Regions from separate parts of the Homo sapiens genome. Here regions 1, 2 and 4 are each linked to region 3. Evidence: fine-mapped expression QTL. A gene starts in region 3. Each other region holds a variant in brackets. All regions are shown on one strand. Distances are from middle to middle.

What was found.
Region 1: its variant is fine-mapped to the expression of IGSF21 in pancreatic islets (PISA, PIP 0.95).
Region 2: its variant is fine-mapped to the expression of IGSF21 in cerebellum (GTEx, PIP 0.95).
Region 4: its variant is fine-mapped to the expression of IGSF21 in testis (GTEx, PIP above 0.99).

Annotation. Positions count from the first base shown.
Region 1 is chr1:18,145,589-18,153,693 of GRCh38, forward strand. All of the region lies in intron 1 of IGSF21 (immunoglobin superfamily member 21), which reads left to right. Among named protein-coding and RNA genes, the nearest start is that of IGSF21-AS1, 26 kb to the right of the region's middle. RefSeq lists enhancers at 1,029-1,530, 1,531-2,030. The variant G/A (reference allele first, on the strand shown) is at 4,002.
Region 2 is chr1:18,223,392-18,231,496 of GRCh38, forward strand. It overlaps IGSF21 (immunoglobin superfamily member 21), which reads left to right. Exons shown (of 10, transcript NM_032880.5): 2 at 4,507-4,619. Among named protein-coding and RNA genes, the nearest start is that of IGSF21-AS1, 51 kb to the left of the region's middle. RefSeq lists an enhancer at 7,606-8,105. The variant T/C (reference allele first, on the strand shown) is at 3,162.
Region 3 is chr1:18,103,941-18,112,045 of GRCh38, forward strand. IGSF21 (immunoglobin superfamily member 21) reads left to right here and starts at 3,858. Exons shown (of 10, transcript NM_032880.5): 1 at 3,858-4,258. The coding sequence starts at 4,189.
Region 4 is chr1:18,175,085-18,183,189 of GRCh38, forward strand. The region is part of intron 1 of IGSF21 (immunoglobin superfamily member 21); the gene reads left to right. IGSF21-AS1 (IGSF21 antisense RNA 1) reads right to left here and starts at 952. Exons shown (of 3, transcript XR_001737917.3): 1 at 867-952. RefSeq lists enhancers at 119-620, 621-1,120. The variant C/G (reference allele first, on the strand shown) is at 3,372.

The DNA of each region.
Region 1 (8,105 bases), 42 kb after region 3:
GCACACACATCCTCTTGCCACAACAACACAGATGCAATAAATACGAGGACTGTAATTTATGTAGATGTTTTGAAGTCCAAACAGAAGGGTGGGGAGGGACTAATAAAATGCCATCCCTCATGTCGGCTTCTCAGGGCGGCAAATGTGGCAGGTTCATAAGGAATGCGCAGGGCACCTGCCGGCTGAGCGTGGAGGTTAGGGAAGTCCAAATGATGCCCTTGGGCTCCCCTGCCAAGGTCGACGCTCTGCCAGGGGATGGAGCCCAGAACCAGGAGGAACTTTGGTTGCTCCTTTATTCCTCCTTCCAAGAAGTGTTTCCAGGCTCTGGCTCAAACCCTCCTGGGCAGAAAGGGACAGGAGCCTAGCTTGGTCTTTTAGGGGAGAAAAGTGTGGCTTCTGCTGGGACAGTGAATGAAGAGTGGGCTTGGCACTGACCCTGGCTCTGCTGTGTGACCTTTGGGCAAATACCTCACCCTCTCTGATCCTGTTTACATATCCATCTAAAGGAGAGAAAAAGGAGGGTATTATGAGGATTAAGTGCCATACTGTAAGGAAACAGGCAGAGAGGGAATATGTAATCAATGCCAGTTTCTCCCCACTCTCCATTAGTTTCCGAATTTCTTGCAAACTGCAAAGGACAGATCTCTTGCTATATTTGTGCCAGAACACCGAGTCCAAAGCACTGGGCCTAGCAGGGAGTGAGCGTCCATCAGTTTGAGGATGGTCCCTTCCTCTGCTTTGTACCAAGAGGGGGATGGGTGGGGTGCAGTATGGAGGTGGGGCAACGTGAGTCTATTCTGGGCCATGTCGTTGGCTCAGCGGGCGACCTTGACTGAGTCATTTCACTCTCAGGAGAGGCTGGAGCTGAGCCAGTGCACCTTCTCCTGGGCCCTCCTGGGATCACTGCTCCAACGCAGGGAGGGATTGGGACAGTGAAGAGTCAGGCTTCTCCCCACACCAGCCCAACCACATGCTGCCCACACCTCCACTCCCTTAGGGGAGAAGTGCCTCCTTTTGGTCAAGGTAGTAGGAGAGGAACTGAGCGTTCAGCCTTGTTTGATATGTGAGCAAACTGGAATTGGTTTCTGGCCAAGGTTGTGGAGCCACCGAGGGTCCCGGGTGAGACCAGAATCAGTTCTGACGTGCCCCTCTCCCCAGCCTTTCTTCCACATTTCTCTCTTCATGACGCTCTCCCATCTCTGTCTTCATGTTCTATCTTAATTGATCCTCATAGCACCCCTGATATGTAGATGAGGAAAGTAAGACTCAGAGGGGTTAAGTGACATATTCAAGGTCACACAGCTGGTTAATGGTAGGGTAAGAAATAAAACACATGCCTTGTAGCAAACACCAAAAGTAAAAACATGGTCACCCTGATTCCTTGTCTGCCCTTGCTCTCTACGCCTGGTCCAGGAACGAGTTCTGGAGGCTCTTCCCCCAATACATCCTGCATCTGGATGACGCTTCCCTCTGACGCCACTGCCACCCCAGCCCAGGCCACCACGTGTCCACGCCTGCCATAGCCTCCCTGCTGGTCTTGCGGCTGCCACCCTCATCATCCAGCTCTCCAGGTGTCCAGAGAGATATTATTAAAATGTAAATCAGATCCAGTCGCTTCCGGGCTTGAACCCCTCCAAGGTCTGCCATCGTGCTTGACATCAAATCCCATGCCTTACTCTCCTTCCTCTGGTGGTGCCTGCTCTCCCACCTCACCCTGTTTGATTCTCTCCTGTGCTCATGCCACTCCCACCACTCTGGCCCGCTTGCTTTCTCCCAAGCGTGCTTGTCCAGCCTATGGGCCTTTGAACTCAGAGCTTCCTCCGCTTGGATCACCCTTGCTGGGATGATCCTAAGACTACAACCTTCCTGTCCTGCAGGGCTGAATTTAAATAAAAAGCACCGAGAAATACCTTCCCTGACACCACCCCATTGAAATGTCACCTCCTTCCCCTATTTTCCCTTTATATGAATACATCTGAGCCATCTGTCAGGACACTGCTTGCTAGCATTAATAATTTTGTTGGTTTTTTTGCTCATCATCTGTTTCCCCACTAGAATATAATTTTTGTTGTGACTATGATGATGAAACATTGTGTACCTCCTACATACCAGGATGGTTCTAGGTTTGCATATACATAACTTACTGAGATTTGCAACAACTTTGTGAAAGGTACTATTATTATCTCCATTTTTACTGAGGACACTTGATATGGTTTGGCTGTGTCCCCACCCAAATCTCATCTTTAATTGTAGCTCCCATAATTCCCATGTGTCGTGGGAGGGACTTGGTGGGAGGTAATTGAATCGTGGGGGTGGGTCTTTCCTGTGCTGTTCTCTTGATAATGAGTAAGTCTCATGAGATCTGATGGCTTTATAAGGGGGTGTTTTCCTGCAGAAGTTTTCTCTTGCCTGCCGCCATGTAAGACATCTCTTTGCTCTTCCTTCATCTTTCGCCATGATTGTGAGGCCTCCCCAGCCCTGTGGAACTGTGAGTCCATTAAACCATTTTCCTTTATAAATTACTCAGTCACAAGTATGTCCTTTTTTTTTTTTTTTTTTTGAGATGGAGTCTTGCTCTGTCGCCCAGGCTGGAGTGCAGTGGCGCGATCTCATCTCACTGCAAGCTCCGCCTCCTGGGTTCACGCCGTTGTCCTGCCTCAGCCTCCAGAGTAGCTGGGACTACAGGCGCCCACCACCATGCCCAGCTAATTTTTTTTGTATTTTTAGTAGAGATGGGGTTTCACCATGTTAGCCAGGATGGTCTCGATCTCCTGACCTCATGATCCGCCCGCCTCGGCCTCCCAAAGTGCTGGGATTACTGGCGTGAGCCACCATGCCCGGCCTCAAGTATGTCTTTATTAGCAGCATGAAAACGGACTAATACAACACTGAAGCCCGGAGAAGCTAAGTCACTTGCCCAAGGCCACACAGCTGGCTAGTGGTAAAGCTGGGATTTGAACTCAGGCAGTCCAGCTTCAGCGTCTAGACTCTGGACCACAACACTAGGCTGTAAATTGCATCAAGGCAGCAGCCAGGTCTCTTTTGTTTCCTGCTGCATCCCCAGTGCCTAGTGCAAGGCCTGGCACCAGGAAGGTGCACAGTAGATGTTTGTGGAGTGAGAGGATGTGTGCCACGGTGAGTAAGCATAGACCCTGCCCTCAGAGATATCATATCATCGCTTATTTCATTGCTCAGAAGACACAGGGAAATAAAAATAAGAAGTGGAAAAAACAAGCCTGTATAATTCAAAGCATAAACATGTTATCCTTGAATGAGTGAGATTGTTTGTAGTCAAGTACAGAGTAGCCCTCCTGCCCCTGCACACACAAGTTAGTGTCTTATACTCATTAAAAAAGCCGGAGCATAAACCCAGTGCTTGAGCTAAGTGTGCACGAGTTCTTACGGTGTCAGCAAGACGTGCTCACCAGAGTGTGTCTGGCGGCATCCCGGAGACTCTGCCAGGCTAAGTGCATGGAGCAGGGTTCAGAGGTCTGCATGCTCCGTAGTACTCCTGCGGCCCACCTTGCCTGGACAACAGCTGGGACAGGCGTGTCACTGACATGTGTGCCTGAGCCCCTCTGTCCAGCCTGGCACAGCCCCTGCTGGCCAATGCTGGGACATGGGCCAGCAGCCTGCAGAGGGTGTGTGTGGCCATGGTGGGTAATGACACGTGGAGAGACAGAGGAGCGCTCGGTGTGCAGGGGAGACCATGGGAGCAGGGACAGTCTCCGAGGCTTCGGGGCAAGGGACTGATTTAAGTGAACCATGCACAGCGGGGATGACACACACAGAGGGAGGGGGTGGCCATCCCGGCACGGTTCAGAGGCTCAGACTCATGGCTGTGCTAATCATTAGTGTCAATACCGTGAATGCTGGCGAATCACAGAGCTAATGTTGCTAATAATAAGGGGTGATATATCCTGACTCCTCAGTCCTGGCTGGGTGCCCGGCCAGCAAGACCTGCCTCCCCAGTACCGCTCAGCTAAATGGCTGAGCCACTC[G/A]TGCATGAGCTCTCTCGGTGGCAGGCCAGCCTGACAGCTTGGCCCAATAGGTCTTCGTAACATGGGCAGATTGTGGAAATCCTGGGTGTTTTTCTGAGGCTTCCTTCGGGGCAGGATCAGCCTGGCTTCACTGATCCATCTCTAGACTCTGGCTCCATAATTTTTCGGCTTTGTGACCTTGGGGAGTCATTTCCCCTCCCCCATTGTTTCTGCATCTGTAAAATGAGAATCATTCATGTCTACTATAAAAGGTAGATCTGGGGAGCCTCTGGGATGATGTGGAACTCTGAGCAGAATGCCAAGCGCAAGTTTCACCATACGCTAATTATTATTATAATAATTACATTTTCATTTATTCAGTAGCAAGAATGTAGGCTTTGGGGCCGGGGAGTGGTGGCTTATGCCTATAATCCCAGCACTTTGGGAGGCCGAGGCAGGAGGATTGCTTGAGCCTAGGAGTTTGAGGCCATCCTGGGTAACAGAGGGAGGCTCTGTCTCTGCAAAACAAAAAATTAGCCGGGTGCAGTGGCTCATATGCCTGTAATCCCAGCTACTCAGAAGGCTGAGGTGGGAGGATTGCTTCAGCCCAGGAGCTCAAGGCTGCAGTGAGCTATGATCATGCCACTGCACTCCAGTCTGGGTGACAGAGTGAAAGAGAATTTAGGTTTTGGAACCAGGTTGAGCTGGGGTGGAATCCTCTGCTGCCACGTGCTCTAAGGCCTGGGCCTCTCTGGAAAATGGGGATAGCACCTTCCTTACGGAGGCTGGGAGGATTGGAGACAGTTCACTTGTAACAAGGAGGATGGTGCTTGGCATGGCGGGGGGGGTCTCAGGATACTTAAGGTAGTTTATAGGTTTTAACTGAGTTCCTGCCGTGTGCAGTCACTGTGCCCTGCCCTGGAGATACCTGTCCCCGATTCTGTGTTAGCTGTAGGTGTTTGAGTCAGTGTGGTCAGAGACAGGAATGCTGGCCTCCTTGGAGATGGGCTTAAGGGGCTAGGCGAGACCGGTAACTTCATACCTACTTCAGGGCCAGGAAGTCCACATACATTTGACCCCTTTCTCCTCCTTGAATTCCAGAGGGGACTCAATCCATCTCAGCACCTCCCAGGGAGCTGAGAGCCCTGAAGTCAGTGCAGTGTCCTCCGTCACCAATGCCATCAAGATACCCCATCAGGGACTCCAGCACTTTCACTGGGGCAGTTGCCCCCCTCACCAAGGTCTCTCTGAGTGGGATCACAAATGCCATTACACTCTGGATCATTCTGCTGGTGGGGCAAGAGTGGCCCCTGAGCTGATGGGGCGGCCCTAGCCCCAAATCCCTGTCATGTCCATTACCACATCAGCCTCCCAGCTTAGTGCCATCGGGAAAAAAAGCAGGGGTGGTGCCTGTCCCAGTTGGCACCAGAGAAAACAAAGGCTCAGGCAGGGTATGTGACCTGAGCAAGGTCTCCGGATGGCTGTGGCTCAGCCCTGATGAATCACAGAATACCTGAGCGTCCCAGGGCCTCTACCCAGGCTGTATCCTCTGTGTGGAGGGACCTTTCATCACTTCATTTAGGTCTCTGTTCAAATCTTCCCTTGTCAGAGAGTCCTTCATGAGCCACTTGTCACAGTCAGGGTAATTAACACTAGCTGCTGTAACAAACAATTCCAACCTCTTCTTGACACAGCACAGTAAAAGTGTATTTTTTGTTCATGCAAAATCAAATGCATTTATTCCTGGTCAGAGGCTCCCCTGAGCACTCACATCCAGGCAATGGTTCTGGGGGCCCAGCCTCTTTCATTTTGTGCCTCTGTCATCCCTGGGAGGTTCCCCGCTGGATCCTCTGTATTCAGTCTGCTGAAGAGTGAAGAGAAAGATCACATGGAGGCTCTGACCTAGAGTTTCAAGGGCCAGGTCCAGAGTGGCATATACCATCGACATCCACATTCTAGTGGCCAGAGCAGGTCACATGGCCAAATCCAACACTGATGGGGAGGGACAGTGCATGCCACATATAACAGGCGGGGGAGAGGAGTGAATAATTCACACCATGGTAGAGGATTTCACAGGATGTCTGGGGCCAGGCCTGGGCGACACTTATTCCCTGCTTCCATGGACCACAACTGACTCACACATCCTCCTTAACTGCAGGGGGCTGTGGGGGGCGGGTCTTGGAAATACGGAGAAGCTCATGGATATTGGTGAAAACTGACAGTTTCTGCCCCACAACCTAGTAATTAAAGAGATCCTAGTAGTGCTTCTCATCATGTGGGTGACCGTATAATTCATCTTCCAAATGGGACCATTTTAAGGTGAAAGGGGTCACTAATGATTATCCTCTGAACACTGGGTTTCAAGCAGGTTGCTCCAGGGATTTGGGGCACGTGGTCACCCTACTCATCACTCTGCATCCTCTCAGCCTGCTTTATTGTTCTTTTTCACACTTAATCACTGCCTAGGAGTGGACTCCGTGAGGACAGGGACCTTTCTCCCTCTGTTGCTATATCCTCAGTGCCTAGAACTGGGCCTGGCACATTAGAGGTGCCCATTATATGCCTGGTAGATGAACGAATGAATTAACTCAACTGTCTCACAGATTCCTTTTGAGGACCGACTGCACATTCATCCACAGTGCTCCTGCCCTCCTGGAGCTAAGCAGATGTCAAATGAGAAAGGGTGATGTCCAAGGACTCCAGAAGGTCATGCCTGAGTCTGGAGGTGGCTTCAAGGTTTTAACTGCGTTCCACTGCATGCAGTCATCGTGCCCTGCCCTGGAGACACCTGTCCCAGGATTCTATGTTAGCTACAGGTGTGAGGTCAGAGCAGATCCCTTGAGAAGGTGATATTTGAGCCACAGATCTTTAGAAAACACAGACCATAGACTCAGTTCCAAACAGTCTTGAGCTCACAATTTGGTTTGGCCTTTTGGGTGCTGTGTAAGCCTAGGTGAGTCACTTGACCTCTCTGAACCTTAGCTCGCTCATCTGCAAAGTGAGACCAGGCATCCGAACCTTTGCAGGGTGGTTGGGACCTAGTAACTGGTGTTGATTATCATAATCATGATTTCTCTTATTTAGATTTTAGACTTGAAGCTCCATCACTATGGAGCTTGGTCTCTGGCCATGGAGGGACCATGAAGTTTTGCCCTTCTCATCATGCATTGTTATAAAGCCAACTAAGGACAGCTCCCCAGTTCCTAGTGCCCAGAGCCCTAAATAACAAGATGCCGCTTCTTCACGTAGGGTTCCATGATCTGGCCTTAGCTCTGCCAGTTAGTAGCTGTGTAAGTCTGAACAGCTTAGCCTCTCTGAACCTCTGTTTCCTTGGAATAGGAATATCCAAGGCTATCTTATAGGGTACAGGTGAGGATAGAAGAGATAATGCAGTTAACAAGCCTCCTACAGCTTCTGCCCATAGCTATGATGGAAAAGCACGAGGGTTGATGTTGATTGCTTGCAGTGTGCCGGCCAACAATGGTGACAGCCCCAGGTTTGGGGGCTCAGTGTTCGAGCCCCCAAGGGCACTCAGATTCTGCCCAGCAGCAGCCACCACAGGGTCCTGAAAGGAGAAGGTTTGCTCCCAGCCGCTCTGCTGGCTTAGAACAGGCAGTGGGTGGTAGGGAGGCCAAGAGAGTGATGGAGGCATTCCCGGGCGTTGCTTCAGCTTCACTGTCAACCATGGAACAGTTATAGATGGTTTTGTCCTCTTGGAGATGTCCATCCCATTAGCATCCACACACGGCCCTAATGGGCTTCAGAAGGCCAATGCCAACAGTCTTGTCTTCACTCCGCAGAGGAGGCCCCAGCCAGATGGATGGAGCGGGGCTCAGAGCTGCTCAGACATCTGCAATGTAGCCCCAGGGAACTCAAAAGGCCCCAGGCCTAGGGCTGGACCCTAAGCGCAGCCAAACCCAGTGACTTGGCTCAATAACAGGCAGGAAGAACAAGGCACAGTCACTGCTCATAAAACAGCAGCAGCCACGGGGTGGATGACTGACTGGGAACCAGGTGCCGAAGGTGAATTTTCTCCTTTCATCCTCACCATCCTATGGACTTGGTGTGATGATCTCTACTTCGCAAATGAGGCAACTGAGGGTCAGGAGAGTGAAGTGATCATCT
Region 2 (8,105 bases), 120 kb after region 3:
GTATGTTCTGCTCCAGCCAGTAGCAAGAAGTGGTAGAAAGAAGTTGGCTTTGGAGCCAGATAGCTCTGGGTTCAGATCCCAGCTTGGCTGCTCTGTCCATGAGGCATGGAATGAGGTGCTCCATAGCTCTGAACAGTAGCTCGTTCCTGTCTGTGACAGAGGCATATTTACAGGAGGGTACGAGGACCCAAACTGCCTGTGCCCATGAACGCTCAGAATGCATCGCTTATTGTATTCATATTTTAATACTCTACTGATATTAATGGAATTCATATTCCAGAAGGAGAGGCAGATGTGCAAACAGACAATTGCACTCCAGTGTGACATACTCATGGTCGTGGCATCGTACAAGGCACTGGTTGCTGCCTGAGCTGCTGAAAAAATGGGAGTGAGAGTGCTGGGAAAACTAAGTGACACATGCTCAGGCAAGGAGTTTTAGTCCTTAGAGCTAAACCTGTCTCTGCAGCCTGGAAACCCCACTCCCTCAGCTTCCTGCGGGGATGAGAAGGGGAGTGCCCAGCTACGAGCATTTCTCCTCCTGGCTGCTACCATGACTCCAAGTAGGGCCATCCCTGGAATGGAAGACACAGTCACTCCTGCCTCGGTTTACAGTGGTGTTTCCCGACATTTGTTTTCAAGGACTCCAGCAGGGCTGAGACTAGGGTGAAGCTAGCCAGGTGCACAGGGGGTAACATTCAAAGAGGCACCCACTCACTCTCAGGATGGTGCAATGAGACGGTGTCCTTTAATTTTGCACTGCAGGCCCCTTGCTTGTCTCACTGTATTCGCTCCCATTCCTGGCTCAGGTTCTACAAGATGCTCTGAAAAAGATGGGCTCCAGAGTGTAAAATATGAAGAAAAATTTCCCACTCTGGCCCAAACTTGGAGGGTCACAAGGCACTGTGAGCACACACTCCAGCTTCAGGGCCTTTGCGCTTGACATGTCTTCTGCCTGGAATGCTCTCTCCTCAATACCCCTATGGCTCACACCTTCCTTTATTCCAGCCTCCTCAGAAGGGCCTCCCAGGGCCCCTCTGGCTAAAGAAGCCCCTCCCCCATTGCCTTCTATCACTTCACTCTGCTTTGCTTTTCCTCATTATGTTTATCACCACTGGACATATTTTCCATCATTTATTTGATTATGGGCTCTTCTGCTAAACTGGCAGCTCCATGAGGACAGGGACGTGTCTATTGTTACTGATATGTCCCCATTGCCTACAACGGTGCCTGGTACGGAATAGATTCTCAATTAATTTGTTTTTCATGCATAAAGGAAAGACAGGAAGAAGGAAGGAGAGAAAGTTAAGAGAAGTCCTGAAGGGAAGAACGGGTTTAATTATACTTAACCCAATATCTCTTAAAATTCATGGATGTTGGAAATCATGTTTTCCTGCCAGACATGGTGGCTCATGCCTGTAATTCTAGCACTTTGGGAGGCCCAGGCGGGTGGATCACTTGAGGTCAGGAGTTTGAGATCACCCTGGCCGACATGGTGAAACCCCATCTCTACTAAAAATACAAAAATTAGCTGGGTATGGTGGCAAGCACCTGTAATCCCAGCTACTCAGGAGGCTGAGGCAGGAGAATTGCCTGAACCCGGTAGGTGGAGGCTGCAGTGAGCCAAGATCACACCACTGCACTCCAGCCTGGATGACAGAGTGAGACTCTGTATCTCTCTCTCTCTCTCTCTCTCTCACACACACACACACACACACACACACACACACACACACACACAAAGAAATCATGTTTCCTGAAACACTGGTGAGAAGATCCCTATTCTCTGCACACTCTGGGAAAAGCTGTCTTGTCTTAACCTGTCAGAGCCACCCCACTCCTGCACACACTTCCTGATTCACCTCTAAGACTGAGTGCGTATGCAGTGGGCTCTCTGATCTCACCCTGGCATGCCTCTGTGAATTCTACTGCCCCAGACATCTGCTGCGCCTGCCAGTGCTCCTAACACTACCACCCAATCACCAGAGCTGCAACCACTCCCCTACTTGCCCTCCCCGCCACCGCCACACTTACACTTGCAATTCCCTCATGGCTTGCCAACAAATGGTGACCCTCCATCCTGCCCTGCCTGCCTCACAGGCACACACCATCTGCACCCACCTCGGGCTGCTCAAAGATTTATGCATCTGAGAATATGTCCTTCCCTCCTCTTTCCAGTGGGAGGAGGACCTTCATGAGCCTTGATCTCATCAGCCATCTGGACTGATGAGGCTCAACTCATAACTATATCTGCAAAGGTGAGAGAGAGCCCAGGGGAGGGCAGCCTCACTGGAAGATTGAGCCACGTGGCTCAGAATTGTGGCCATGGGGTCAGGTCCTCAACTCCTATCACAGTTCCTGCCACAATGCCCATCCTCCATCTTTAGGGCTGGAAGAAAAAAGTATGCAGGCTGCAGATGTACAGTGTTTGCCACTTTCTCTCACCTCTTCCGAGAGGCTGTAATAGCGTGGTGGTTGTCATGGAGCCCGAAGGTTTGGGTTTGAATTCCAGCTCTGTAACTTGCAGCTGTGTGATCTGGCAGGGGACTTCACCTCTTGGTTCACTCACAGAAAGTGGGAATCATAATAGTTCCTCTCTCCTAGGAGTGTCCTGGTGATTAAGTGAGTAGATGCATATCATATCAAGTGCTTAGCCCAGTGCCTGGCACAAAGCAGGTGTGCACATGTGAGCCAGTATCACAATGTTACACTCAGGCTTGGCTTGCCCGGAGGTCTCCCTTTCCGTGGGGTCTGTCCTCCTGAAGGTGGCCTCCTTGTTTGTCATGCCCCATGGCTGGGATCATCCAGGCTGGATCAGATTCCCTCTGTGCCCACCCACAGGCCCCCGTCCGCCTACCTAGAGGCTGGCTGGTCACCTGAGTGGTGACTGTGTTGGGCATCTCTGTCTCACCCTCACTGCTTGTTCCTGGAGGGCCGAGCAATGCCTGGGTCTCTGCTTCCCAGATCCTGGCCCCAGGCCCGCACAGGGTAGGTGGGAGTGAACTGGGGTTGAGTAAATGAGGAAAGGAGGATCCGGGTTGGTCCTTCTGATCTTGGAAGTTGGACCGGTTGGTTGTGGTTGTGGCTTTGTCAGACCAAGTGGGCTCCAGGGCTATCCAGGGGCTTGACCTCTGGCCTAAGTTACAGGCCTCCCTGGAGTGAGC[T/C]CCTTGCCTTGCCCCTCACCCTGGAGGCTGGGTCCTGAAGCCTTGGACCGTGCAGGTCCGCTCTGACTCCAACTTCCAAATTGATCCTCTCCAGGTCGATTCTTGTTTTGTTTTGTTTTTTGTTTTCCTGGAGTGTTGTAACCATTGAGTTCCAGGCAGGGGTCAGGCCCATGGGCTCCATCTATTCAGCTTGCCTGCACAATTGAAATCTTCGAACCCATCCTGGCTAGTTTTCTCATTAAGACTATCGGACTGGATTGATCCATTAGATCAATGACTGGACATCAGCCGGCAGGAAGCCGATCAGATGAGCCTGGATGATCAGCCCAGGAATGAGGTTCCCCTCGGAACTGCGGTGAAGGTCCAGGCCTCTGGGATGGGGCTAGTGGAGGCAGAGGAGTGGGTTAGAGGCCTCACCAGACTAGACTTTGGTGTGGAGAGAGCAGTGTCCCCAAGGTGTGGCTACCAGGGCAAGAGTCCCAGCGTCTGCTCCAGGCACTCCCAGGGGCAGCTGGTAGTAGTCCGGGAAGCATCACCTGGTGTTTGCAATGAGTTCAGACTCCTCCCCAGATAGTGGGTCTATAATGGACTTCTCTAACATATCACCACTGCCATGGCCAAGGCTTGGACCCGACCCTCCCTTTAGGTGGCAAAGTATGTGTGGTGGGAAAGCCAATGGAGGGTGTTAAGGAAGCCAATGGTGGTTTCCCAGGGCTCTCTTTTTACCAGGAGTCATTTGTTTATGAGGTTGGAAATGGAGGAGTATGGGCACTTAGAACACCATGTCCCAGTGTGTATTTCTCAGATCCTGGCTGCGTAGGATGGTGGTGGGGCTTAAGGGGTGGCTGAGCGACCCATATTCAAATAGGTTTGGAAATGCCAAGTAAATACATTTCGGCATTCATTTCCTGCAGGACCGAATAGATGAATCATGAATGCCACAACTCTAAAAAGGGGTGGAGGGGCGATGTTGGGGCACAGAAGCCTTCTCTGGGGTATCTTATAGAAATACATTGAGGCTGTTCTTGGAGGTGCCAGCAGGTCCTACCTTCAGGGAAAAATGTGTCCCAAGCAGAAGTGTTTTTGGTTTGGAGGGATCCATTGGAGCCAGGGAGGCAGCCAAAAAGGAGATGTTGAAGAGAGGGAAGAAGAGGGTGATTGGCTCCATTTGGGCCTGCAGTCACCATTCACAGAAACCACAGTGTGAACAGCGTCCCTCAAAGTTGTGCAACTACAGACCCCAAACTTCCCTCCTCTGTCTGCTGTCTCCCTGGCCCTGCCCTCATCAGCCCAGCCCCTCTGATCTGCTCGTGCCCTTACCACCCCTTTCTCCTCTCTTCTGTAGGCTACCTGACAGTCAACATTGAGCCTCTCCCCCCTGTGGTGGCTGGAGACGCCGTGACTTTGAAGTGTAACTTCAAGACAGATGGGCGCATGCGGGAGATCGTGTGGTACCGGGTAAGTCACTACTACTGCCCCCTTCATGCCCATGGCCAGGACTGGTGTGAGGTCCTCAGAGCCCTCTGGACACCCTCACTGGTGTGGCTATGACCTCAGCCCTGACCCAGTCCTGAGTTGTCCTGGGCATCTGCTGGGTCCCCGCCCTCTGCTGACACCCTCCTTGGGTACTAGCCATCCCTTCTACCCTCAGGACTGATCTGGTTTCCACCTTCTTTGTGCTCCTATTATGCCCCTACGCTTGGAAAACTCCATTAGGCAAAGTAGAAGTTACTGAGAACACCCTGGACCCTGGGCACAGTGTAATCACAAGTGATATCTGATGGTGGAATTTTGAGCATGAGGCTTCGGATAATGTTTTTGGCAAGGGAGAGAGAAAAACAGGAAGGCTTCCTGCCTTTTGCAAAATCAAATCACAGAGATAGTCTGCCACCTAATCTGACTACGTATAGGACTAATCCTGGTGTCTGGCACCATCTGAGAAGGGAATTGGTTAGAGATGAGAAGGTACCCACCTGCCCAGGGCCCAGGTGTTGGCACCAGGAAGAACAGCTTGGAATCTTGAGCACAAGGGGCCTTTTCAACCACTGAGTGAAATCTTCTTGTGTCTGGATGGGGCATCCCAGTCTTCTATCCCTTTGCCACAAAGGAATTGGGGCTGGGCTCAGAAGGTCCAGGGGGCAGTGATGCTTTTCTTCCAATGCATGCTTGAGTGTGCACAGATAAAGGCACCACCATCCTGGGGGAGAACTCCTCTTCTGTCATCTAAACAGGGGTTGGCAACATTTTTTGGTGACGACTGAGATTGTAAATATTCTCCTGTCTGCCAAACATTCAGTCTTGGTCACAGTTACTCAACTCTGCTGGTATGGCATCAAAACAGCCACAGACAGTGTGTAAATGAAAGGGCATGGCTGTGTGTCAATGAAACTTTACTCATGGGCACCAAAGTCTGAATTTTGTACAAGGTTCATGTGTCATAATTTCTTCTTCTTTTTATTTTTTTTCAATGATTAAAAAAGGTAAAAACTGTTCTTAGCTCGCTGGCTGTACAGAACAGGCTATAGAATGACTTGGTTCATGGGCTATAGTTTGCAAATCCCTGATCAGAAACCACGCTTTCCTAATCTTTGTTGCCCTTTCTTCAAATGAAACGGATGGATAGCACAGTTAGGTGGAGCTGTTCTGGAGGAAGTGATGGAGCATGGAAGAGAGGGCAAGGAAGGTGGGGGGTGGGCACCAAACTGTGATTCAAGATCTAGAGCTGGCTCCTCTGCTCCTTGGAGCTGTCACCACATCTACACACAGAGCATGGAAACTCAGTGTTAGAGGAATCCCTGGGGCATGCGTGCTGTTCATAGTCTTGACTCAGAACAGCTCTCTTCAGTCTCCTTCTTGCTCTTGGTCCAGGTGAGCTTTGAACCAGCCTGTCTTGGCTGCTCTGCTTTGCATTTTCGGTCTCTGATTCATGGTTTGCTTGTTGTTGCTATTTTGTTGGCTGTGATCTGCACTCCTTCTAACCAAAAATCATAGTTCTCTATTTCAGCATTGCAGTCTCTCCTGTTTAGAGTTAATTCTAGTGCCCTCCACCCAAGCTCTTCAGGTAGCCTGGGCTTCACAGGTGTGAACCTGACATCCAGCACCCTAGAGGGTCCCAGCCTTAAGGAAGGGTGCCATCCTGGATAGATCAGTGGGCCTAGAGAAAGTCAAGGCATATGTTAAATAGTGCCATGAACTGAATCACTAAGAGGTGTATTTACAGGATATGGGAACTGCTTGGCTGACACAGGCTGGGAGCATCTCATTAGCACCTGGCAGAAGGACAGGGATAAATTAACTCCAGCTCACTGCTGATGATGGGACCACATCTCTCCCTCAGCCATCCCATAGATGGGATCAGAGGGAGGGGTGGTGAAAGACAGATAGAAATATGGAGACCCAGTGGGAACAGTTAATGGAGCGAAATGGAAGGAAGTTTGGAGATGGGAAAATAGCAGTGGGCACCTCATTGCCTTCCAAGCTCTTGAAGCAACTGTCCTCCCTCCGGTTTGAAATCGAATGTTACCATAGTCACAGTGGTGAAAATCTCCCTGCAGAGGCTCCTGCTGGAGTTATGGGCAATGCTAGTGCCAGGCTGTGCCCAGGTGTAGAAGCCAGGAGCAGGTTTCCACATGGCTTGACTTGATGTTCTTGAAGATGGTGAGCAGGACTGGGGCAGGAGGATCCATGTCCTGGGCTGGACAGAGACTCTCCTTTTTCTTCGCCATCCTCCGGTAGGGAGACCCTCCTCTCTCCCCCACTCTTGCTGCCTAACCTTGATGCCACTGGTAGTTTTAAGAATCAGTGGCATCTCTTACCATTGTCAGGCGCTGCATATCGGGCCATGGTAGGCTGCACTAATTAATTTATTTTATTTCATTTCACATCCTTTGACTGAGGGCCTCTGGAGCAGGCATATGCAGATGTATGCAAATCACATGCAAATCACCCACTAGAGCCAAATGCCTGGGCCCTTGTAATTCTGTAGCTGGACGGAGGTGGTGGCTCAGCTGACTGGTTACTGTCCTCAGGTCTCAGGGAGCCCACGTGCCCGCCTATGATGGGAAGGATGGGGGCAGAGGAAGGAAGGAAATTCCAGGGAAGGGCTCCGTGTGGCCAGTTTTTGCTTTCTGCCACTCTAGCTTTCTCTAGTGATTGTCTCTCTTCCCAAAGAGGCAGCTGAAGGGAGAGAGATAAGAGCCTACCAAGATGGGGGCTCCAGGAGTCAAGGTCAGGGCAGGGCTTCCAGAGGGAATGGGAGCAGCAGCAACAGGAGCTCCAGTCTCCTTCTCCAGCCAGACCCTCCTCTGACCCCTTCCTCCCCTGCCAGACGAACCCCCCACTGTGGCTTCCTTCCCCATCTCCCTCTCCCCGCAGCCTGCCCCCCTCCTCCAAGCAGGGAGCTGCCGAGTGCTGTTTGTTTTCTGTACGTGTGTTTGCTTCCCGTCCCAGCTTCCTTTCTCCATCCTCCGTGAATGAGCTTACAGAGCCCGGCTTGGAAGGAAATGAATAGATTACACAGGCCCAGTCAGGACTGTGGCTCCAACCCCGTTAGAAGGAAGAAGCAGGGCATTGTGATGAGGCCGCCACTGCCTGCTCAGCACAGTGGGCACAAAATGGCCCAAAACATGTGTCAAGCCCAGCAGCCTCCCCTCTGGTCCTAAATACATTATCTTAGCAAAGGGATCATCCTGAGCTGTCAGAAAACATCATGAATGCATTGGATTCTTTGGGTAAATCAGGGCAGCTGATGAAATTATCTGAAGCCATAGGGATCACCTAACCTTGGAGCTAACAAAACCTCTGGCTGGATATTTGGGAAGGTCTTGCTTGTGGACCCCTCAAGGGAGGGGAAGGAAATTGGGAGGAAGCGGCAAGAGCCTGACTCTTGGACACTTTACCCCCATGGTCTGGCCAAGTGGGGAGGAGCTCAGCCCGTTTGTAGAA
Region 3 (8,105 bases):
GTGTGTGAGGACACGTGTCTGTGTGTGTGTGCCTGGGTGTGTGTGTGTGCGCCCCTGTGTGTGTGTGTGTGGGCATTTGTGTGTGTGTTCCTGTATGTGCATGTGGACATGTGTGTGTGTACACATGTGTGTGCCTGTGTGTGTGGACATTTGTGTGTGTGTGCCTGTGTGTGGGCATTTGTGGGCATGTGTGTGTGCCTGTGTGTATGTGTGTATGCTTGTGTGTGCCTGTGTTTGTGTGTGTACACTTCTGCTTGTGCCTGTGTTGGTGTGTGGACACTTATGTGTGTGGCTGTATGTGTGTACACTTGTGTGTGTCTGTGTACACTTGTGTGTGTGTGTGTACACTTGTATGTGTGTGCCTGTGTGTATGTGTGGTGTACTGTGTCTAGGTAAGGTGTTTGGGAACTCTGGTTCTTGAGCTCTTCCTAGGTTGGAATCTGGTCCTATTCATAGCTGTATTGTACTGAGAAAGTTGCTTAACTTCTCTGTGCCTCAGCTTTCCCAACTGTAAGACAGGACTAATGATGGGACCCACCTCATACATTATTGTGTGGTGTCAATGAATTTATATACATTAAATACTTTCACAGCACCCGGCACAAAGAGGCACTTTCATAAGTGCTTCAGACTCTTATTATTGAACCTCACTGGGTGTCCTGCTGCAAACCAGCAGAGCCCATTCCCTTGGGAGCCAGGTTGGGGTAGGCAGTCATGTGCTGCGTCCCTCCCCTTTCCTGGCAGGGAGGGTGGGGACTAGAGGTCACAGAGGGGCCCTTTGACCTCTGGGGCTATTCCCTGGGGTCCGCGGAGTAGAAGTTTGCTTTGTGCTGTAGTGCACTCTGTTGGGAGAGCCTAACTCAGCACCATGAACAGAGGGAGGCTGGGGGCAAACAGCCACACCTCCGCCAAGGACTCCAGCTCAGCCAGTGTCCGAGGAAGAGGCCTGTCCTGCCGTGACTCATGGGTCTGAGTGCCAGGACTGCAAAGTGGAGGCCCTGCCGATCCATTAGGAGACAGGAGCCAAGGGATGTTAAGCAAATTAAAAGCCCCAGGGCTGTCCCGCGTGACCTTTTCCTTTGGCTAAGGCACCCCACCCTGTGCCCTCTGCTAACTGTGCTTCTCAGTGCTCCAGAGATGTCTTTCTCTGGGACAAAGGAAAGGCTTTAAAGCTATATCTTATGAAACAGGAGCTGGAGGAGTGGGCTTCCCTGGAGGGGCCTGTGAAGGCAGCCGTATTAACCACTATGGTTACCATATGGCCATAGACATGCACATCACAGCCAGGCCCCTTTGGGCAAAACCAAACTGCGCACCTGAGCAGACACCTCCTCTCTGATGGGCCCAGTCAGAATATGTGATCCTGGCGCTCCAAGGAGGTTCACTGCCACAGGACGCCTACCAAGTGCCAGACTTGTGCAAGGAGCTGAGGAACAGAGTGGATAAGACTGAATGACCTACCCTCATTCATTCATTCATTCATTCATTCATTCACGCATTCATCCAACTGGTATTTATTGAGGATCCACTATGTGTCAGGCACTGGCTAGGCATAATAATAATTATAATACAGGGTGATGTTAAAGAGAATTGAGGTGATTCAGAAGTCTTGGGGCTGAAGGAGATCTCCAACACACCAGCCCCAATCCTTGGTCCTAGGAAGCAACCCTCCCTTGGCTGTTAGGCCTGCTTTCCTCCTCACTAGCATATCCTCAGATGCCATTCTCTAGCTCCTTCTGCTGGCTCTCTTTTCTAGCTGGTGTGAACCATGGCTGGGAAGAAACATCACTAAGGGGCCCTGGAATCCCACCTGCTCCCTGGCCCTCATCTCCAAGGGCTGGGCTGCAGGGAGCGCAGCCAGGAAGCCCCACCAATTCAGGGTTCACCTGAGGAACTGATGCTGTCCACCTGCCTAGCTGCACGCCGATTTGCAGCTGGGGCCAGAGAGTAGGAATGCCCACACAGCGATGCTTGGCATTTCCCTGCACAACTCAGACCAGCACAAGGAACCGCATGAACCTGATGCTGTTCCCCAGCCAGGGAGCCCCTTCCACAGAGGATTTAGAACCTGGGATGGACTTTTGGGTTTGTTGACTTTTTCTTGGGTCAGAGTGGGGAGGGAGGGCCAGGGAGGAGGCAGTAAGGGACTGTGCCCTGCAGCCTGAGAAGAAGGTGAGGGGGAGAGGTGACCTCAAGCTGACCCTCAGCAGCCTGGAGAAGGGGAGACCTGGGTGGATGCGAGTGAGAGGGAGCAAAGAACAGCAGCCAAAGGGAGAAGAAAGGACCTAAGACTCCAGTGTTCATCAAGTGTTCAAGCCATATGCAGTCCAATCAACCTGGAACCAATTAGTCTGATTCACAAAAAAAAAAAAAAAAAAAAAAAAAAAAAATCCCACTTAGGGACAAACTGTAATCAAACACCTATTTATAAGGGTTTATTATGATCATTATTATTATTTTACTGAGAGGATCATTCTAAAGCCTGTCAGGTGAACGTATGCTTTCAGATCTTCATAAATGCAAATCGCTCCTTCTGGGGTGGGTGAGCAAGCTGAGCCGCAGAGCTGCCTTGGGAGGCGATGGGGTGAGGTTCCAGAGGGCAGGAGGAGGGAGCAGTTCACTTTCATGGACATCTCTGCACAAAGCTCACCCAGAGGCAGCCCAGCAACCACCCATTGCCCACCCCACTCCCTACACTCCTCTCAGAGGGCTGCTGGAGATGGAACTGGCTATAGACCCATTGCCCATGTAGGTAAACGATGCAACAGCCTGACTCAGCAACCTGCCAGAGCTAGGGAAGCTGGAGATTCTCCATAGAAGGCCTGGGTAAAGGGACCCACCTGAGTTCTGAGCAGGTTTTGCCCCTGGTCGTGCTGGTTTTTCTGGGCTTTGCCAATCTTCTGGGTCCCTACCAATGGTGAAATTCTATCTCCTGAACTTCCTCATCTAACCACATCCCCAGTCCACTCCAAGGGCTAGAGTACCCCTCCCCTTCATCCTCGCAGGAGGCCTCAAAGTCCACCGCCAGGGCTGAGGCTCAATGGTGTGTGTGTGTGTGTGTGTGTGTGTGTGTGTGTGCTCGCGTGTGTGTTGGTGGGAGAGTAATGGTAACATACAAGTCCCAAACCTGTTCTTCTCGGACCTGGGAAGAAAAGCTGTCAGGTCTGGCAAAAAGGTGGAAACTTGGTCTCTGCCAGGAGGAAACAATCAGTTCCTCACCCTTCCTGGCTGGATCCTAGCACATGGGAAAAAGACAGAACACACCCCATTTCCGTGGGTCCCTGGGGGAAGGAGCAGCCGTAATTGGGGAAGTTTCAGAACATGGAAACCCCTTAATCTTGCCCAATGAGGGCATTCATCGTTGGCAAGGTCAGAACTCCAGAGCCACACCCTGCCTGCCCTGCTCCCAGGATGGCATCTTTCCCTCTCGGGAGGGAGGCTGCCTCCTTTCATCAGGCTGAGTAGCGGGGAGGGCGATGGTAATCCCGGGGATAGGAGGGGCTAGGTAAAGGCGGATCCGATGGAGCATAGCTTCCAGGGCGGGGTGTTGGGTCACCTGGGTAAGGGTTAAGAAGCTGGAGGCAGCAAGCCAGTTTTGAGTGAGGGGGGACCTGAGTGAGGGGAGAGGGGAGGTTAGGAGGGGGTGAGCTCTCCTTCTCCCTGCAATAAATCGGCTTAGCGGACGAGAGCCGAACAGCCCAGAAAGGATTAAAGAAAAGTCTGTATAATACGCGGAGAGCGCGGCGAGGGGAGGGCAAGGAGGGCGGGGGGGCGGGGAGAGGGGGAGGGACGGAGGGAGGGCGAGAGGAGGGGGGTGCTCGCGCCGCCGGGAGAGGCGAGCGCGAGGCAGAGAGCGCGATTCGGCTCCAAACTCCGGCGCTGCAGCCGATCGGACTCTGGGCCGCGGTGGGCACCGCGCGCAGCTAGGGAGCCGAGAACCGCGGCGAGCCCCGAGGACGCCCAGAGCGCGAGGGTCGCTGCGCCTCGCAGAGCCGGAGCCGAGTCGAGCCGGGCGCCCGGGCTGCCTGGCCGCGGCGGCATGGGGGCGCCCCCGCGGCTCTCCGCGCTGCCCGCCACCGCCTCGGCCAGTGGCCGGAGGCAGGAGCGCGTCTGAGCCCATGGCGAGGGGACCCGCCGCCACCGCCTCCACCCCCGCCGCCCCGCCACCGCCGCCAGCTCCCGGGCACCATGCGAACCGCCCCGAGCCTCCGCCGCTGCGTCTGCCTGCTGCTCGCCGCGATCCTGGACCTGGCGCGCGGTGAGTGCGCGGGCGCCTGGCGGGAGCCGAGCGGTGAACGTGCGCGGGGACGGGGTGCCGGGGGAGGGCGCTGGCCGGGGTCGCTCCGAGAGGCTCGGGCTACGAGCACCGGTCCTGCCCGGGGTCTGTGGAGCTGGTTGGCTCGATGAGGGAGGGAGGACGCCTCTTGGAGAGCGCTCATGGATTTGTGCCAGGGTGTGTGTGTGTGTGTAAATTGTGTGTCTTTGTTGTGTGTCTGGGTGAGGGTGTCCGGGAAGGAGCTGTGTGGGCAGAAGGTGCGGGAGTGTATTTAGAGATGCAAGTGTGTGTGTGCGTGTGTGTGTGATGGTGTGGGGTCTGCGTGTGAGTGAGCGAGGGTCTGGATGGGTGTTAGAGTGTCTGTGTCAGTTACATGGAGAAGGTGTGTGTGTGAGAGTGTGAGCGAATGTTGGGGGGAGGGTGTGAACATGTGCCACCTTCCCTGTGAGGGTGTGAAGTGTGTGAGCTTGTGTCACTGTGGGTGTGAGGTGTTAGGGGGTGGGTATGTGAGGTTTGGCGTTTCACGTGTGTCCCGAGTGTGCAGGTCTCTAGGGGTGTACGACAGCGGATTACTATTTCTGTGTGCACAGGAGATGGGACTGTGACACTGGACAAGAGTCTGCTTATGTGGGATGGGTGGGGGTGCAGGTGCCTGGGAGTCGTGGGCTTCATGGGGCTGGGAGTGTGTGTATGCGTGCCATGGAGCGTGTGGTTATCGTGTGCAGGGAGGTATGGACGCTTCCGGGGCTGGGGAGTTGTGAGCAGCTCAGTGTGTGTGTGTGTGTGTGTGTGTGTGTGTCCCGCCGTGTGGACTTGCTCCCGGGTTAGGCTAAGACAGCTAGAAGGAGGTTGAAGCCGAGCGGGTTCTCCGGAGCCAGTGAGAGGTGGCTCCGCAGCCCCAGGGTCCGCGGCCGGCCTCCCACCCAGTGCCGCCGCGTAGTGGGTCTTAAATGGAGCTGAACCCTTTCGCGCAGTGAGCAGAGAGCCAACGTGAGGCTAAAAGCCAGGAGGGAGGGAGGCGGGACCAGCGAAGAGCCGCAGGCACCGAGACTACAGGCTCCGCGTCCGGGATCCTCCTCGGAGCCTGGTGCCAACCTCAGCCTGGCTGGAGTCAGAGCCTGGCTCCGCCTCGGAGGGGAGCGGGACGCGAGGTGCCAAAAAGTCGTCTTTATGATCAATAAGGTCTCGACCCCGAGCCCCACTGGATGATAGAGGTGGGCATCACCTCTGTCCTATGCCATAGCCTTGTCCCAGCAGGAGGTGCCTACCTAGGCTCTGAGAGTGCCTGCCAGGAAGGGGTGCCCCCTTAAAAATAACCCCAACTCCTTCTACCCCGAAGTCCTTGGGGAGTGCTGGGTCTGCTGATGGGAGAAGCTGCAGAATTTGAGCCCGGAAGGTGGTCCTGACAGCGAGGGGGGAGGGGTTGGTGTAACCCAGAAGGAATGCAAACCCTGTACTTTGTTCCCCTACCCTTGGAACAAGAGACTTTCCTAAGTGGATCAAAATGTCCCCCCTCAACTTTGGGAGGAGGGCTCTAGAGGGAAAGGTTACATGGGGGAGGTCCTCGTTCCAGCGCCGCCGAGAGGGCACTGGGGTTTGTTGAAAGGCACTGGAGCCCTCACCTGGACATTGCAGGGGGCGGGGGTTGGAGGCTGGGGACCTAAGGTAAGCACCCCTTTCCCTGGGAATGCGCAGAACAGAGAGACGCGGCAGGGTGAAGGAGAGGACTGATGAGAAGGGCTTGTTGGGAAACCCTGGCTCCGTCAGGACCCCACCCTGCGAGCTCTCCCTGGAACCCGGGAGCAGGGTTCTTCTGGCTGCCCGGCTGCAGAGAGCTGACCCGGCATCCTGACGCCTCAAATCCCTTTGCCCGCCTCTGCGGGCTGCGGGAGGCGGGGGTTGGCGTGCCTGAGGGTGAGCGCATCTGGGCCGGTGCAGCCAGCGCGGCCTCGGAGCTCCGCTGCTCAGGATGAAGGAAGAGCGCAGACGCGGATCGCGAATGGGAAACTTTCCGCGTCTGGGGCGCAGAGGGAGATCCGAGGCAGCCGGGAGCCCTCTCTTCTCCGCAGAGGAGAGCACACGAGGGTGGGGTCCCTCCTTCCTCCTTCCAAGTCTGTGCCCAGAATGGGGGGCGGGGTGCGAGAAGAGTCCGTGAGAGACGCAAGAGGCGGGCTGTGCCGGAGGAGGGCGCCCTTCCTGGAGGTGGCCGAGAGAGGTGCACCTGGCAGCGGCTTTGCAGGGCCACCTGCCTCCGAGGGCGCAGAGAGGAGCAACCCGCGCCGGCCTTCACGAACGTACTGGCGGTCACTGCTCGGGGAGGGGCACGGCCAGAACGCCCTCGCCGGTTCTGCCCCTTTGGGTGGCAGAGCAAGGGTGCCCGACGCTAGAGAGTCGGGTCTGGCAGGAGGAAGGAGGCCGCTGCCCCTCGCACTGGCTGGGCCGGAAGTCCTTGCCCTGGCTCCCCACTTCCCAGAATCAGACCCTCCAAAGGAGAAACCCACATTTCTCGGGACTCCTGGGCGTGTCCTGGGGCGTTTTCAACTCCTCCAGCCCCCGTGAACCGTGCCTGGGCACTTCTGGGAAGTCCTGCACTGGAGCCTGTGCAGTGGCGCCGGGCTGGGGATGGAGGAGTGGTCCTTAGCCGCTGTTCAGCCCTGGGAAACGTTCCGCTGAGAGCAGGGTGGGGGCAGCCCCAGTTAGGGGTAGCCCACGGCCCCAGCCGGGGGTCTCCGGGATTGCGCGGGCGGAGGTGGGCGGCCCTGCGGGTTCTCGGGTTCTCGGGTTCTCTGTCTCCGCAGCCGCGTGTCAGCAGGTGGATGGGATGGAGGGGCTGTCTCCGCTAGGCCGCCGCAACCGCAACGCCGAGACTGCGGGGGCTGTGCGCGCGCGAGCGGGTGTGACGACTTTATATATTTATCCTCCCTTCACACGCCCCCTTCCCACTGGGCGGGGCCTCTGGCGCGGCAGGGTTTCTTCTCCAGCCCCAACTGGGGGAGTTAAGGGCCCTAATCCCTTGCAGGCTGCCTCGCCCATGCCCCTCCAGCGTGGCCCCGCCCCTAGCCATAAACTCCACCCCTCTTCCACCCCATAACCGCTCTGCAAATGGGAGTTTTTCATTTTCGTGTTTTAAGTGCAGAGAATATTCGAGCTGGAGCGACCTCGGAGATCACTCACTTCGGTGGTTTTGAAACTTGTGTGTTTTTCTTTTTCTTTTAAGTAGGAAAACCCTTTTAGAGGAAACATTATCACCCTCCTAAAATCCCAATACCTTGAGCAAGATGATAGATCTTAAAGTAAAGCTGCCCTGGTGGATGCTGGGGATGAGGCCCACATCGAGCGCTCCTTCCACACAAGTCTTTCACAACCTCAAGACTGCTCCCTTCCTCCGCAGCTAGTATTGTAGCTGGGGTTTTGTTTTTCCAATAGCCCCGATTATATGGATCAGCTGCGATGTGTCAAGCAGGATGCTGGCTGCTGCTTCGCAGTCCTCATTCATGCTGCAAGATAGATTTAAGACCTTCTTTTCACAGATTAGGAAACTGAGGTTCTGAGGTTTAAGACTTGTTAATGACAGAAGTACAGGCTCCTTCCGCTCCCTCCTAGTTCTGCCCCAGGCTCCTCTTTCCGCTGAATCTTCCTTTCCTCTCTCTGGCCGCAAAGAATCCCTTGGGCAGGGCATGTGAGTAGAGAAGGACCCAGGTCATCTGAGTGATGCCTCAGATCTGCCTGCTACTCTGATATTTCAGAACGTCAGTCACAGACACACTTGAACTTCACTACACTCTGGCAAGATGGGCAGAGGACGGAGTAGGGGAAGGAGGTGGAGGAG
Region 4 (8,105 bases), 71 kb after region 3:
TACCCACCTCCACCCTGAAACAAACATATTCAAATGCCCGTGTGACCCTTATCTGGAGTTTGAGTAAAACTCTTGGGCTTGGGCGTCCAAAACTCAGAATTCTGTCTCTGCCTCTGTCACAGATGTGCTGTGTGGCCTTGGACAAGTCACTTCCCCTATCTGGGCTCTATTTCCCCTTTATAATCTGGAGGGACTGGATTGTGTGATGTAAACAGGCCCCTCTAGCTCTGACATTTGGTAGAAGCTAAGGTTGAAGGAGGTGATTTTAGGACAAATACTAGGCCTCCCTATCTTATCTAGCGGGGAGTGAACTGCAGAGTTAGCACCCGCAGACAGCCGGGAGGAAACGAGAAAGAGCCATTTGAAGGATTCAGAGGAAGATGCCATGGAATAACAAGGGCAGCTCCTTGAGGGATGCTGCGGGGAGAGGGGTGCAGACATCCAAGGTTAAAGGCAGGAGGGGTCAGTCTGGAACCTCCTTGTCCCTTGCTCCTGGTGGGAAGTGACCCGGGAAGAACCTGGGGTAGCGGGGGCTCCCTTCCTCTGTCCAGTCCCTTATAAGGGGTCCCTTGGGCAGAGGCTGTTCTGAACCTTCCTTCCCACGAGGACTCTCTCACCAGGAGGTCACCTCCCCTAGCACAGGGGTGGCAGGACAGGGTGGAGGGAGAGCTAATGAGCCAGAGCCATGTTCCCTCCGCCTCCAAAAGCCCAGAGCAAGGCAGAGGGAAGAGCCGGGTGAATTATGCATGTGCCTGTTAATCACGCACTGATTAAAATAATTGTACTAATATTAATTCTTCCAGCCCTCTTGGAGGAGAGGGCAGTGCCTGTTCCCTGCTCCTGGCAGTAGATCATGCCCAGCAGACCTGTGGATTTGTAGGATGCTGGCTCTCTGCCAGTCCCTGGGCATGCCGCTGGATGTGAGCTCATTGTACCCTCTGCCTTGTGAAGGAGGGAAGGCCCGGTGCCTGGCCTGGATGTCTGAAACTGCAGAATGAGGTTCAGAGATGTCAAGGGCCTTAATTACAGACACACAGCAATGAGCCTGGTTGGGAATCAGGCTTCCTGCTCCGCGGGCTGTCGGCTCTGCCTGCAGGGTGAAAACAAGAAGGATTTTCAAGGCAGTGTCACATGGTTGAGCTGCTTTTAGGCAGATAACTGCAGGAGGGGACACAGAGAGGCATCCTAGCTTAAAGATATCTGACTTGCAAATGACGAGACACCTGGCTTCATTTTTCAGACACCTGAAGGCATTGTGGCAAAGTTAAGGAACGATCACAGGCTCTGGGGCCAAACAGACTTGAATTCCAGTCTGGTCTCCCCCAGGCTCTAGCCAAGTGATCTTGAGAGCAAGACTTTTCCTCCTTGAACCTTAGGGGTCCCATCTGCAAAAGGAGTCAGTCAAGCCCAGAACTGTTGTCGAGATTAAAGGATACAATCTAATAAGTAGGGCATCTCTTGGCACATAGCAGATAATCCTCGGGAGCAGTTTTCCAAGGAGTAAGCCTTTTCACACTGATGTGCCGTTTTCACTAACTGGTATTTAAGAGTATCTGCGCCCCTGACCCTGTGACCTTCTTCCCACCATGGAAGACTTTCCTCCTCTTCCTTGGTGAGGTGGGAGGAGTTCCGGGGTCTCCACAGAGAATTTAGAATACAGAGCAATTCCCCAAGGAAACAATGTTACAAGTCATTGGTAACCACAAATGTAAATAAAACGTTGTCAGCTCCCTTGGGGATTAGGGGGCTTTGGGGGCTACCCTGGGGCTTTAAGGACAACAGGCCAGCTGTGACTTTAGCAGTGCTATTAGTAGCCTTGCCCACTGCTTATTGAGCTCCTATTTGCTGGGCACTTGACATACAGCGCTTCCTATAATTTTTCTGGATGTATTTGAGGTTGGTGAGTATTTTTATTTCCCCCTTTAACAGATGAGGACACAGAGTGGTTTAATTCCAGGCTAAAGTTTGCCATCCTCCCAGTCTGTGCTTTTAACCATGACTTTATTGTATCCACTGACACTGTTTATCTGGGAAGATATATTGCTTGATCCAAGAAGCTGACTTAGAAGTGAACTTTACAGACAGATCCTTCCATAAGCTAAAGATTGCATAGACTCTGGTGGCCTAGAGAATCCAGAGTCAGTAATAATCCAATAATGGGCACTTTCTGAAGGACTCAGACAACAGGGCAGGTGGTCCAGGGTCCAAGGTTTTTCCTTTGCCCCGAAAAGTCCATGCAGAGCCCTGAGCATGTACCCAGAGATGGCTGAGAAGGACTGTGGTCGTGTGTGGGGATGGGGTCAGTGAGGTGTGTGTGTGTGTGTGTGTGTGTGTGTGTGTGTGTGTGTGTGTACATGGTTCTTGGTACATATGCATAAACCTATCTATATTCATGTGCACATAAAACATAAACACAGGCCATTATCCAGTCTCAGGTTCTCTCTGATGATTTTTTTTTCTGCAGTTGATTATTGCCTTGTCCTGTCTCTTCATCTCTTATTTCTTATTCACAAACACACTTACTGATGTGGTGTGCATTTCCTTAATTTGCATGGGTTTGCATAGTGCCTGGGGAATGATCAAATGTCTCATCCCCTCTCTCCACTTGAACAAGGAATTCCCCATTTAGAGCAACGACCCTGTGGAAGGGGGAGTGGGTGTGTTTGGGTGATTGGATCGAGGAGGTGGCACATATATGTTAAAAAGTCATATTCGGTATGCCCGTTGTCTTCAAAATATATCCTATGGCAAACAAGCTTCTCAGTGAGTGGAGAAGATGATGAATTTGGATCTCCTAGGGGGTGGATGAAGAGGCGCTGAGATTGGTGAGTTTATCTGAAGGGGCAGGGGTGGGATGCAAAGGTGGGCACGATGGGGCGAGTTTCTTACTTTTTTTCTAGCTCTCATTGGCCAGTGCTTAAGCCATCACATAGATTTCAATCAGCTGTAACAGATATAACCTTGAAGTGTGAGGTTGTCAGGAAAAAGAAGAAAGGAAGGCGGGGAAGTGGGGAGAGAGAGAGAGAAAGAGGGAGCAGGCTGGAAAAGAGAGAAAGGGAGTGTCAGACACTGTGACAACAGCGTCATTCCCTCCATCGTGTCCTGTTGACCTGCCGCAGGCCAGCCCCAAAATGCATACAGCCAGGTCTTGCCCAATCAGATATTCTCGTTATCCCCTTAATTATTCTTTACAATTAAGCTGTATGTTCTCCATTTACAGAAGAGGAAGTGAAACCATAAAGAGGTCCCTTGGCCACCGAAAGGGAGACTCGGGTTTCAGCCGAATGTCTTTCTTCCTGAGTTGAAATCCCTGATCCACCTCTTACCATAATAACCATGTGATATTGAACGAGTTATCTAACTTCATGTTG[C/G]CTCAGTTTCTGCATCTGTGAAGTGGGGATAATACTGCAGAACTATTAGGGTTGTATAAGCCTTAAATGAGTTAATGTACATAAAATGCATAGAACAGTGCCAGGTGCATATTAAATCCTGTATAAGTGTTAGCTATTATTCTATTGTTATTATTCTACGAGCATAGATTGTTCAGTTAAAAATCTTGTCCCTCCCTCTTTCTCCCAGTGCCCCTTCCTGCCAGCTTCTCCTTCCTTTTAAGAGTTAAGCCCTGGGGTCGGCTTCTCCGGCCAGCAAGTGATGTCATCCCCCCTTCCCCTTCCCCCTACCCCACCCCAGGGTCTGGCCTCCCAGAGGACGGGTCTGTGCCTGTTTTCCAGACCCCCAGGCAGGCAGCAGTTCGGGGAGCGAGCGCAGGGATGCTTATTCTCCGCCCTTCCTCTCTTTGAGAATCTAAGGGCATAAGTTAGATAACCGTGACACCTGTTTTAAATTAGCCTTCAGAAGCCTCCGACAGCTGAGAAATTATTTAACAGGGAAAGAATTGAGTTCATGAATAAATATTAATATTAAATCACCACTTCCCTAGATTTAAGAGGAAGGGTGGGGGACTCACCAATAGATGGAGGCAGCAGGTGTCCTGGAGATGCCACTGTGCAGGGCTCAGAGAAGCCAGCTGTGGGGTGGGACTACGGAGCCACCGACCATTGGTCACCTCGTTCCTGTCCAAGCCGAGAGGGGACTCTGTCCATCAGGGAGGCTGGCAGGTGGCAGAGGCAACATCCAAGCAGCTCACGGCAACTCAACAGGTGCTCGTTTGAGCTCCAACCTTCCCAGGCTGCGGTCTTAGAGGGAGAGAGACTCCACCTGAGAGCTGCCCAAAGCATGGAGCAGACTCCCACCCCCATCCCTCAGAGAGGGGCCACTGTCCCAGCCCAGCCTGGCCCCATTGTGACTTTCATGGGTCCAGCACTGTTACCTCCGTGGGCCCCTGCCTCCATGTAAAAATGGTAAAATGTTTATTTTATGACCACATTGGAATAAAGATGTATTCCAAAGATGTAATCCAGGCTGGATTTGTAATTCTATATTCATTATTATTTTATTCATTTTTTTCCCTGATTTTAAAAGGAATCAAAATGAAAACATATTTTGGGCCCTGGGCACGGTCCCTACTGGGCCTGATGGAGGCGGCAACTCTCTGGCTGGGGTCGGGGTGACGGATGCTTGAGCCAGGGAAGCAGGAACTGGTGAGGAGGGGTCGGCTTGGGGGTGAGGGTCTCCAGGGGATGGCAGAGCCACCCAAGGGATGTGAGGATCTGGAAACTCAGATCCCATCCTTTAGGTCCAGATCACAGATTGAAATTAAGTAAGAATCATCAATTTCTATGAATAACAAAAGTAATAATAATGAGTATGAATGAATAGCACACTCTGCTTTGACTGTCCTGACCCCCTTGGCATTCTTCAAAAGCCTCCAAGCAAAAGGAAAAGAAACTGCCAAGCACATTCCAGGCTCAGGGCCTTCGCCTTAGCTCTCCTGGCCTGGCATCCTCTTTCCTGGTATTTGAGTGACTCGCTCTCCCTTCTTCTTGGGTCACCATCCTAGTGAGGTTCTTCCTGGCTTTTGGATCGAAATAGCCCCTCTACTCCCTTTATCCACTGTTCTTTTCCCCTCCTTAATTTTCTCCATAGCACTTCCTGCTTCCTTATATTCCACTGCGTGACACATGGAAACATAGGGTATAATAGAATATACGCTGCATGTGGCGAGGTGTAGATGTTTACCAGGTTGTAGGGACTTTGTTTCATTCTTCTTTGTGCACTTAGCATCTAGAATAGTGCCTGCCATGCAGGGTGCTCAAAAAACCCTGAATGAATGAATGAATGAAACATGTCTGGCACATACATGGCAGTTACAACCATCTTTGTGCCTAGCGCTTTGGGTTGCTGAGCCCTCAGCCTTCAGTGAGGAGGTATTGGCCTTCTTCCACCATTGCAGAGACTGAGGCCTGGACATACAAACAAGCATGCCCCACAGTCATACAGTTAAGGTAGATCAATAGCTTCCCTGGATAAAACAAAGTGTAGACAGGTCCAAGGTTTGAGCAAAAAAGTGGTTTGGAAGGCGCAGTTATGGAAGGATGAGGGAATAAGGGGGCTGATGATTTCCCTTCCTACTCCAGGTTCAGCATTTCAGTTTCTGTCTGCACCAGAGCCTTCTAGGCTCTTTGTTGGAAACTGTGGATGTCACACTATAGCTCATACTTACTTATACAGAATTTAATATGCACCTGGCACTGTTCTATGCATTTTACATATATTAACTCATTTAAGGCTTATACAACCTTGATGAGTTCTGCAGTATTATCCCCACTTCACAGATGCAGAAACTGAGGCAACATGAAGTTAGATAACTCGTTTGATATCACATGGTATTGTGGTAAGAGGCGGATCAGGGATTTGAAATCAAGAAGAAAGACATTGGAGTTGGGGACACTGGTTTAAGTGCCTGCCCTGCAGAACCTAAGCAGATCTGTTTTCCCCTGGGCCTCAGTCTCCCCCTCTGTAAAGGAGGGAACTGGGCCACAGTCTGTGATCCCTGCATCGGGCAGGGCTGAGTGCTCCCTTCTTCTGCATCCAGGCTTCCCACCAGGGAAGGGAATGAGCCCTCCTCCTTGCTGCCTCCCCTCCTCCTAGTCCCCGGCTCAGGGCCTGATGCCTGCAGGTGGTGGTGGATCCTCGGTCGTGCGGCGGATGTGTTCTGGCATCATTTAACACCTGCCTCATATCTCCGAAGCCCCATCCTACACGTAGCTGTGAGCACATAGCTCTGCCGAACTCCAAATAGACATAAGCCACTGCCCTGCTCGGCTTCTTGTCTAATTATGGCTGCGACATTGATGTGACAGGGTGCGTTTAATTACAGGACCATGCACACTGACCCAAACGCTGTTTTGGCCCAGAATTTTCCAGCTTGAGCAGCCCAAACGCTGTGTGTGATGATAATAATAAGGACCTTTAGATTGTGCTGGGGATTAAATGAGATAATACATGCTTCTGGCAGGGAGCAGGGCACCAGCCAGTGACCTGTGGTCAGGTCCCAGCTCCTCCTTCCCCTTCCTGCTCCTGACATGGATGCCCACTCTGCCTAGCCATGCCCTGGAAAGACACCCATCCTATCTTGGCTAGGCAGAATGTCAGCTCTGTCTTTTTTGAATTTGTCCTCCAAGGATTTGCAGAAGATGGGAACAGGGGAGGCCTTCTGAATATAGTGACTCTTCTCCCAGCTCCCAGAAGCACATCTGGCTTGGCAGCATCTTTGGGCCACCCAAAGCCAGGGTCCCTTGGCCCAGGCAGCATTTGGGTCAGTGTGAGGGCCTTCAGTAAGCACACGTTCCCATCTTGACACCACTGCCATCACTAGATAAGACACTGAGAGGGACGGCGGGCTGTGTTCATTTTGTGTCTGATGAGCTCTGCTATAAAATGAGGAAAGCAGTTCAGAGAAATTAAGCAACTTGCCCAGAGTTGTCCAGCTAGGAATTTCCAGAGCTGTACTCAGATTCAGAACTCTGGGTGACTGCCCTATGCCAGGCACCCCCATTTGTTAGCCTTTAAATGGGATCTGAAACCTTTATTTATCGGGACAAGTCCTGAGTGTCCAGCAGACCAAGCTTTCCTTCCTTTCCTTCCACCACAAAGTGGAAAGTCTTGCCACCACTTCTGAAAGGTGTCTTTTTTTTTTTTTTTTTTTTTTAGACAAGGTCTCACTCTGTTGCACAGGCTGGAGTGCAGTGGCGTGATCTCGGCTCACTACAACCTCCACTTCCTAGGTTCAAGTGATGCTTCCACCTCAGCCTCCCCAGTAGCTGGGATTACAGGTGCATGCCACCACATCCGGCTAATTTTTTTGTATTTTTAGTAGAGACAGGGTTTTGCCATGTTGGTCAGACTGGTCTTGAACTCCTAACCTCAGGTGATCCGCTCACCTCGGCCTCCCAAAGTGCTAGGATTACAGGCATTAGCCACTGCACCCGACCCCCAGAAAGTGTCTTTTGAGGGTAACTTGTTTCTTCTTTTCCTGAACCTGTGGCATATGTCACAACTCTTAGCAGCTGTCCCAGCACTGGTTCTTTTCCCTCCTGGCAGTGACCAGAGCTGTCATTAAGTGACTCATTGTGAGAGCAGAGACTGTCTCTGTCACCACTGTTGAATGAATGAATGCATGCATGGATGAATGAATGAATGAAACATGAAACTCTTTCCTGAGTTCTGTCCTTTCATTGCTCTAGCATGCTGCCCTCTGAGCACTTCCCACCCCTCGAGGGGGGTCATCCGTATAGGGGTGGGAACAGAGCCAAGGTGCCTAATGGGGTCCGAAGCCTCTCCACCTGGTGAAATTGCCTGTAGATTCCATGTCTGTGTCTGTCCACTTGACCCATGCTCCAGGCCCCGCTGCCCTCATCTCTCGTTCCCCTGATGAATCACACGAGGCCTGGTGACACAGCATCATCACTCTCCTTATCCAGCAGACGCGACATCACCCTCCTTCACCCGCTGCAAACTGGCTGCCCAGGCATTACAGGAAGCCACCCTGCCCCCTCCTGGGCCTGGCTGCCCTCGCCTCTGTAATATCCTTTTTCTAATAGAGTGACCTGAACCCTATGTGCTGTTCTAAAAGCAGCCTCAGAAGCCCCTGAGACAGGCAGCCAGGTAATTCCCCTGGCGGAGGCACGATCTTACCTTGCCCT